2 separate regions of the Homo sapiens genome follow, and region 2 is reported to be linked to region 1. Evidence: microRNA targets listed by miRTarBase, many of them from high-throughput screens and not tested one by one. Region 1 holds a microRNA gene; the other region holds the end of a gene's coding sequence.

Region 1 (4,447 bases):
GCACACTGAACACCACTGAGGCTCTCCTCCCATCCCAAGGCCCTGGGGCCATCAGGCTGCCTGCTGGGAGGTGGCCCAGGGGTGTGGCTGCTGGTGCCACCAGGAGACGCCTGCTGTGCCTGCTCCTCCTCCCCCAGCGGCTCCTTCCCCAGTGCTTCCATGGCCAGGGGCCCCACACTAGGGCTTCAATTGCTCACCCAGGGTGGGCAGGCAGTGAGCACAGCTTTACCCAGGACTGGGGCCTCTGCCAGGGAGCTGGCACCCCCACGCCCATCCCGCAGAACGAGGCCAGGCCCTCTGGGACAGTCACACTGCACAAAGTCCAGATGTTACCGCTACGGAAAAGTGTCTTCGGCGTTACGAAGATGCAGTAACTCAAGGCCTTTGGGGAAAAGGCACATTTGAGTCTTGGAAAGTTTTTCCAGAGCTGGAGAACAAGTCTACGAGTACCGTGGATGCAGGAGATGACTGAGTCTCCTTCACGCCTTCATTCAGGCACTCGGCACACAGCCACTGAATACACACTACCTGCCAGCAAGCTGCACCATGTGCTAGGAAAGCAGGAAGATCAAGACAAGACCCTCGCTTCCTGGCAGCTCACATTCCAGTGTGGGGGTTGGGGGGTGGGGCAAATCAGCACACTACAAACAAAAGAGCAAGTGTGGAGACACAGGTGTTGAGGAACGGTGGAGGGAACCAACTCAGTGGGCCGGAGCGGGGGGTGTTGGTGAAGCCTTTCTGGAGGGGGTGTCAGAGGCAGGAGTGAGACCTGCAGAGAGGAAGGGTGTTGGCAAGGACAGGGAGCCCCAGACCCTCCCTGACCCTAATGTTTCCAGGCCTCCTTCGGACGGTGCACCGAGTGACTGGCGGAAGCACAGTGTAATCCTCCCTGGACTGGACTCTGGAACGGCATGTCCGGGGGGGGCAGGGGCGTTGTAGGCTGTTTAGTCACTGTGGCATCCCCAGTGCCTCACACACTGCTACATGATAGGCACTCGACAAATATTTGCTGAATTGAATGTTGTGGAATCATCAGAGCAGACCCGGGACATCTGGGTCCACGTTTGGTGGCGAACTGCAAAGCGATGGGTGCAAAGGTCGTCATGCAGGTGAAGCAATGAACACCGAGAGGGACCTGAGCAGACCCCACTTCCGTGTGCTCCAGCCTCTGCTGACAGCGCTCCTCTGAGCTAACGATCTCTCTCCTGGGGGAGAAAAAGGGCCACCTTCTTTCTTTTGCAAAGTAGGAAGAATTTCTAAGTAAATTTTGCTTTACAATGTTTCCCTAAGAATAAAGAGGAATTGAAGATTTTTTTTTTAACATATCCGTCATCATAAACCTCAAGGAATTAGATAATATAGGACCAATACAGGTTAGAAATATCCAGTCGTTCAGACAGAGACACATGTGAGTGCAGAAGGCTAAGCTATTTCACCCACAAACTCACTAAACAATGTTGTTTCCAATAGCAGAGACATCATAATTTGAAAAATAGTACATAATAATTATGCAAAATGGAAATAAGGTGCTTTTGAGTAGAAAAGAAAAAAGGCTACAAAGGTATTTCAGGAGAAAATGGTTCTATTTCCAAAAAGGGGAGAAATAAAACAAGGTTAACAGCTTAAAGCCCACGAGCCCTGTGACACCAAGTTGGAGACTATCAGGCAAAGACAGCTTCAAAAGTGCATATTTGGTAGAAAAATGAACAAAATGAAATTCACTGAAAGTCTTTGGATATTGGGTTGCTGTTGGGGCTGCCGATTCATTTTTTCCTTCTCTAAAGGGACACAGCATTCATTCACAGATGATTCCTTTATCTCACCTAAAACAATGCCCGTGGTATCGACTATTATCCTTGGCAAAGTGCCTTTGCATTAAAACATGGTGACAGCATTTCTCGGCCCTGATGTTGGGGAGAGTTCCTACCATGTAATTATCCAGCTCAATTAGAAGACAAGGTCAGAACAAACAGATCCAGAGGGAAGGTCCATGCCTGCTAGACACACAGATGTGGTCCCACATCATTTTCTTTTTTCTTTTTTTCTTTTTAGGTAGCCTGTTACTGTTTCATACACATGGTTTTCAAAGTAACAGGCAGCCAGATAGTAAGACTGCAGGGAGCAAATGAAAATTCACATTTTTTTGATTGAGTACCTATATTGCAGGCAGTTTCACATATAACATTTCATATAATGTCTACAGAAATGTACACAGCTAATTGTCTATGACATTGGTATTACTGAGACCATCTCACAGATGAGGAAACTAAGGTTCATTAATTTGACTGATAAGACTTATAAGAGGTTCATTACTTTGAGCCTGGTTTAGCTAATAAGTTTCATAACCAGAAGTCAATCAGATGTGGCCGCCATCAAAGCCCATGGGCCCAAGGCATGGTCTCTCAATTGTACCACAATGAGGCCTACACTTCTGTTTTGCACTCTACACATTTTCTTAGTGGAATACAATAACAGCTGTACCTGTTTTCACCTTTTTATAAGGATCTCAATGATCCTCATTAAATGTAATTAAGAACACAGTGAAACCTGAAACTATTCTGCGTGAAGGTGCCTTGTCCAGTCTGGGGAGAAGACAAGCTCGGAGTCTTGGGTGACAAAGTCGCTCATTGATGGATTGCCAGCAGTCTGGTAGTAACGCCTTAGTGACTGAAGGTCAAGAACATTTCTCTTGGGCTCCGCTTCCCAATTCCAGTTGAAGAATAACAAGCTCTGTGGTTTCTACACAACAGAAACCACAGATTCCCAGGGGCCCTGTCAATCAAGCTTGACACTAAATGGTGATGACTGCTCCTGTTATTGCAAAATACATGTATACTAAACAAAGACCGTACTGGTTAGTTTTGCTTAAATACTGGAGGATTCTGACCAGTACAATGCTAAAACATAAACTTTCATTTATGAAAAAAGATAAACTTTCTAAAATTCCCAGGTTATACTCAAGAAGTAACTTGCTCCCTGTGAAGAGAGGGTGGGGTTGCAGAGACTCCAGAGATCTCCACTTCTGCAGTGTCAGTGTGGAACTGTATCTATTGCTCCAGTATCCACTCCTGACCAGCAGGAATGGCAAAGAACCTCAGAAGAGTACAGGTGGTAGGTGCTGAGTAAAACTGGAAGTCTGAGTGTGTCTCCTAGACACTAGCAACTACAAGGATATACTTTCAATGAAACTCTTTGAACTCATTGGGAGAAACCTGAAAAATACCATGTGCTGTTGAGGAATTAATGCCCACTCCCACCCCCAGTCTTCATCTAATTATGCTTTTATAATTAATTAATTAATGCCCACTCCCACCCCCAGTCTTCATCTAATTGTGCTTTTTAAATTAATTAATTAATGCCCACTCCCACCCCCAGTCTTCATCTAATTGTGCTTTTTTAATTAATTAATTAATGCCCACTCTCACCCCCAGTCTTCATCTAATTGTGCTTTTTAATTATTTTATTTTATTTTATTTTATTTTTTTGAGATGAAGTCTTGCTCTGTCGCCCAGTCTGGAGTGCAGTGGTGCGACCTCGGCTCACTACAAGCTCCGCCTCCCGGGTTTTTGCCATTCTCCTGCCTCAACCTCCCGAGTAGCTGGGACTACAGGCACCTGCCACCACGCCTGGCTAATTTCTTTGTATTTTTAGTAGAGACAGGGTTTCACCATGTTAGCCAGGATGGTCTCGATCTCCTGACCTCGTGATCTGCCCGCCTCAGCCTCCCAAAGTGCTGGGATTACAGGTGTGAGCCACTGCGCCCACCCTATCGTGCTTTTTAAATTAATTGATTAATGCCCACTCCCATCCCCAGTCTTCATCTACTTGTGCTTTTCCAAGTATATTCATCTATGGTTAAACTTTCATATCATTTCTTTACTTTTCTTTTAAGCCACACACTTCTGAGATTAAAAAACAACAACAACAAAAAAACTGTTCAGCTCATTTTGAAATACAACAGAAGTATTCCTGAGGACTTCCCCATGGCAAACACGATTATTAACTGATTACTAAAAAGAGAAGGGCAAAAGGCAAAATAATGGACATTAGATCTAGGGAAAAATGGTGGAAACAACCTTAAAGAATACGGTGGAGAAACATCTGGAAAAAGCATATTTAATTAGAGAACACCAAGAGGGACTGAAACAAAGGAAATCATGCCTGGCTGGCCTGATGGAAGGCTTGGAAGGTGTGACTGCCATGAAAGCTACAATCAATTAAATAAGTGCCACCTTTCTTGAATTTTGCCAAGCAGATGGCAAAGTTGGAGAATCAACAGGGAAACTGCAGAGTGATACAATGGAGAGAGAGAAGGATCAGAAAGCCCCTCCTACAGCTACATCCCTATCCCTCTTAGGCTTGCGTCATACATTGTCCAGTTGGCTTCAACATTCAGAATAACTGGAGCCCTAAAGAACTGTCAAGTTCTGAGAACAGTCTTTCCATT
Region 2 (4,000 bases), not on the chromosome of region 1:
ATGGTGTATGGTTTAGGAACAGCCCAAACTTCTCTTATAAACGGTACCCTCTGCCACCTACTAGCCACAGTCCCAAGTCCGTGACCATCTATTTCTATTTTGTCAACTATTAATACTGTAGGGTCATATAGCTTCCAAGATCTTGATGTAGCTGTGAGTTGGCTGGAAAGATGGCAAAAGAATGAAAGTTAACGATTCTTAGATCTAAACATTTCTAAAGTTTGACTGCACATTTGTGATGACTTACTTAATGGTGACAAATGCATTATTTATCACCTATACAGTATCTCTATACTTAAAACATGAAGTGACAATAATGGGTGTATTGACATACATTCATTATGTATGTCATAGCACGTAGCTAGATTTCATAATAAAATGGTGAATGATTGAGCATACTTTTTTCTTTCTGTTACAGAATCTGTTCCCAGCTATACCACCAAAGTGTCTTTTAGCCTTCAACTTTGATATCCATCAGAAGACTGCAAATCTCACTATTCTCTGGAGCTATATATAAATCTTTGTTATGATCATGTCATATAGGAAGAATGGCTTGTGCTTAAGGACAAAGTCTAGAAACCACTATCATAGTTGCTAAAAAAAATGGTTTTCAAATGTCAAATACATGAGTATCTCCCTCCATGGACTGGAGAATTGAAAAATTGGTTTGTATATTGATATTTCCAGGTTCATTTGCATATACTTTTTTCCAAATAATGCACATTTAATATGTTTTAAAATGTCTTATTTTTAAGAATTATAACTAAAAGACCAAATACTGAAGTTAAGTGCATTGTTTTCAGGAATCAAAAGATAAAGGGGCCGGGTGTGGTGGCTCACACCTGTAATCCCAGCACTTTGGGAGGCCGAAGTGGGTGGATCACCTGAGGTCCGGAGTTCGAGGCTGGTTTGGCCAGCATGGCGAAACCCCATCTCTACTAAAAATACAAAAAATTAGCTGGGCATGGTGGCAGTTGCCTGTAATCCTAGCTACTCAGGAGGCTGAGGCAGGAGAATCGCTTGAACCTGGGAGGTGGAGTTGCAGTGAGCCGAGATCATGCGACTGCACTCCAGCCTGGGTGACAGAGCCAGACTCTGTCTCAAAAAAAAAAAAAAAGAAAAGAAAAAGATAAAGGGATTGTGAAAAGAGCATTTATATTGGACTAATCAGATGAGAGTGTTTTGTTATTTTGAAAGAGTTTCTTTTACTGAGAATAATCTTCCTTGAGTTTATATAAACTGCTATTTCCATATGTTTTAAGTTATATTTTGGCAAGTGTAGACTCCCAGGAGAGACTTGTAGGTACAATCTAGGCCTTGAAGAAACAAAGGCTGGAATATCTGCCCATGCTTTGGGCATGAGATGCTCAGATGGTGCGTGGGTAGATCTAGTTGAGGAAGTGTGGGCCTGGCTGTTCATGGGAAGTCTTCAGTGGCCTTCATGGATGGCCATCCAGTCCTGAGTGGTCACCCTGGGGGTCCTGGGACACACCTCAGTAAAGAGCAAAGGCAACGCCCTCAGGGTCCCTTCCTCCAAGATGGCCATGTAGGGTAATGGAGATGACCAGTCCACACTGATAAGGAGTTCCTAGCAAGGCTTCCTTGTGGGTACCACAGGACAACTCTGCCCATAGCAAAGATGCTTCAGTCCAGAGGGAGCCCATGGGCTGTTTGAATTTGGGAGAGGTGGGATTCATTACAAGACTTTGGGCTCTTATGTCACATCACATGATTTGGAGAAATTAGACACAATCTCTTATTTTTATACCACTGTCTTGGGCTAAAATAAACAGGTTGTGGCTGATGGTGTTGAAGATAAATAAGCTTAAACAAATAACTTTGGCCGGGCACGGTGGCTCACACCTATAATCCCAGCACTATGGGAGGCTGAGGCAAGCAGGTTGTTTGAGCCCAGGAATTTGAGAACAGGATTTTGAGAACAGCTTGGACATCATGACGAAACCCCATCTCCACAAAAAAATTCAAAAAATTAGCCAGGTGTGGTGGCATGTGCCTGTGGTCCCAGCTACTCAGGAGGCTGAGGTGGGAAAATCACTTGAGCCCAGGAGGTCGAGGCTGCAGTGTGCTGTGATTGTGACACTGCCCTCCAGCCTGGGTGACAGAGTGAGACCCTGTCTCAAAAGCAAAACAAACAGCAATAACAATATTATTATTGTTATAACTAAAAAAAAAAAAACAAAAACAAGCAGCTTTTGTGACTAAGAAGGAAAATATGCATATAGTGGCATATTTTTATATGAATCATCTCCTCTGTGGTCTTGCCCAGTACCATCCAGTGGAGCTTTCTGCAGTGACGGAAATGTTCTGTATTTGCGTTGTCCAACGTGGTAAACCAGACACATGTGATTCTTGAGCACTTGAACAATGACTGATGTGATTGAAGAACCCATCTTTCAATTCAATTAAATTTAAATAGCCACATTTAACTCCAGCCTTGGGTTTGACCTGATGGAAAATTCCCATGAGAGAGTGCTCCAAACCGTTCCAAGGTGGGGCCAGTTGCGATTCTAAAGGAAGAAGCACTAAATGGCAGGGTGATCAGTCCAAAGCATTTATGAGGGGAGCTTACATACAGCATGGGCTGCAGCGTCCTTGTGATGGGCAGTGAGACAAGGGATGTTCTACCTGGGCATGTCCCCAGCGAGGGGGTTGGGGGATGGAGTTCACATGAAGATGTAAGGAATTTGGGTGGGGGCTGGGCTGGCTTCTACATGTTTAGCAACACGGCTGATCTTTCAGTGTTTCCAGCAACAACCTAAGCACCGTTATCAGTGCCTAGGAATGTTCAAGGCCCAGGCTGGGGTTCAGACCTGCAGAGGAAAACATCAGCTGGCTGGGTCAAGGCACCATGTGTTACTTGGTCAGGACAGAGACAAAAATGAGGAAAACTAGGGGACCCCACACACATGTGGCTACCATACTCCTGAACAGGTCTAGCTAGTTATTTGTTTTTTTGGAAGTTAATCTGGGGTAGAAATGTATGGTGATTTTTATTTTCTCTGTCTGAAGAACCAGCCATTTTTAAAAAGGTTATTATTGACATCCCAATATTTTGTCTTGGTGGGCTTACTCATAAGTCCAAACATTTTATTCTCAACAGGTGTAAAACAGGCAGAGCATTCTAAAACCACATGGTAGTGCTTTGGTGGAGGACTGCTTCCACTTAGAAACAAACTCTGAGAAGTAGGCTAAGAGAAGACAAGAGGGCCGGGCGCGGTGACTCACGCCTATAATCCCAGCACTTTGGGAGGCCGAGATGGGTGAATCATGAGGTCAGGAGTTCGAGACCAGCCTAAACAACATAGTGAAACCCTGTCTCTATTAAAAATGCAAAAAATTAGCCGGGCGTGGTGGGCACCCGTAATCCCAGCTACTCAGGAGGCTGAGGCAGGAGAATTGCTTGAACCCAGGAAGCAGAGGTTGCAGTAAGCTGAGATCCCACCATTGCACTCCAGCCTGGGCAACAGAGTGAGACTCCATCTCAAAAAAAAAAAAAAAAAAAAAAAAAGAGAGAGAGATGAAAAGAGTAGGAAAATGAGAAATCACCTTCGTTGAATCTTAAATAGTTACATTTTTTTCTTTTTAACACTAAAAATACAATTCAAATTTATTAGCTCTACTACTTGAATGATTTTGGAATTTTATGTCATGCTAAGGTATGTGTTACATATGGCCAAGTGGAAAATATATCTGAAGAGGGGCTTTCATACAAATAGACTGTTCATAATTTATGTAAATTTTATTTTAATAAAATCAGTTTTTTGTTTAAAAACCTTGTTTCACTGTCACATATGAAAAAAATACTGCATTGATATATAATTATTTCATGTTACATAATAACCCAAAACAAATAATTACTTGAATATGTTTGTAGAGATACTATTTAATTTATTCATATAAATGTGCAGAAAGATTCCAAAGGAGAATATATATCTTGTGAAAATATGGAGATTTGAAAATTTGACATGATGCAAATAGA

What was found. Region 1 holds the annotated microRNA hsa-miR-3692-3p (GUUCCACACUGACACUGCAGAAGU, at 3,019-3,042, opposite strand). A microRNA usually pairs through its seed, bases 2 to 8, with sites in the 3' UTR of a target mRNA and lowers its output. Matches are read on the target gene's strand: a 7mer-m8 pairs with bases 2 to 8, a 7mer-A1 pairs with bases 2 to 7 and ends in A, and an 8mer does both.
Region 2: the mRNA of LRRC2 is a reported target of hsa-miR-3692-3p. Seed matches in the 3' UTR shown: 7mer-A1 at 3,699-3,705.

What each region holds. Positions count from the first base shown.
Region 1 is chr6:157,527,770-157,532,216 of GRCh38, reverse strand. MIR3692 (microRNA 3692) reads right to left here and starts at 3,085; the gene lies at 3,017-3,085. All of the region lies in intron 1 of ZDHHC14 (zDHHC palmitoyltransferase 14), which reads right to left. RefSeq lists enhancers at 1-562, 563-1,468.
Region 2 is chr3:46,515,482-46,519,481 of GRCh38, reverse strand. It overlaps LRRC2 (leucine rich repeat containing 2), which reads left to right. Exons shown (of 9, transcript NM_024512.5): 9 at 419-4,000. The coding sequence ends at 468. Among named protein-coding and RNA genes, the nearest start is that of RTP3, 20 kb to the right of the region's middle. RefSeq lists a silencer at 2,189-2,483.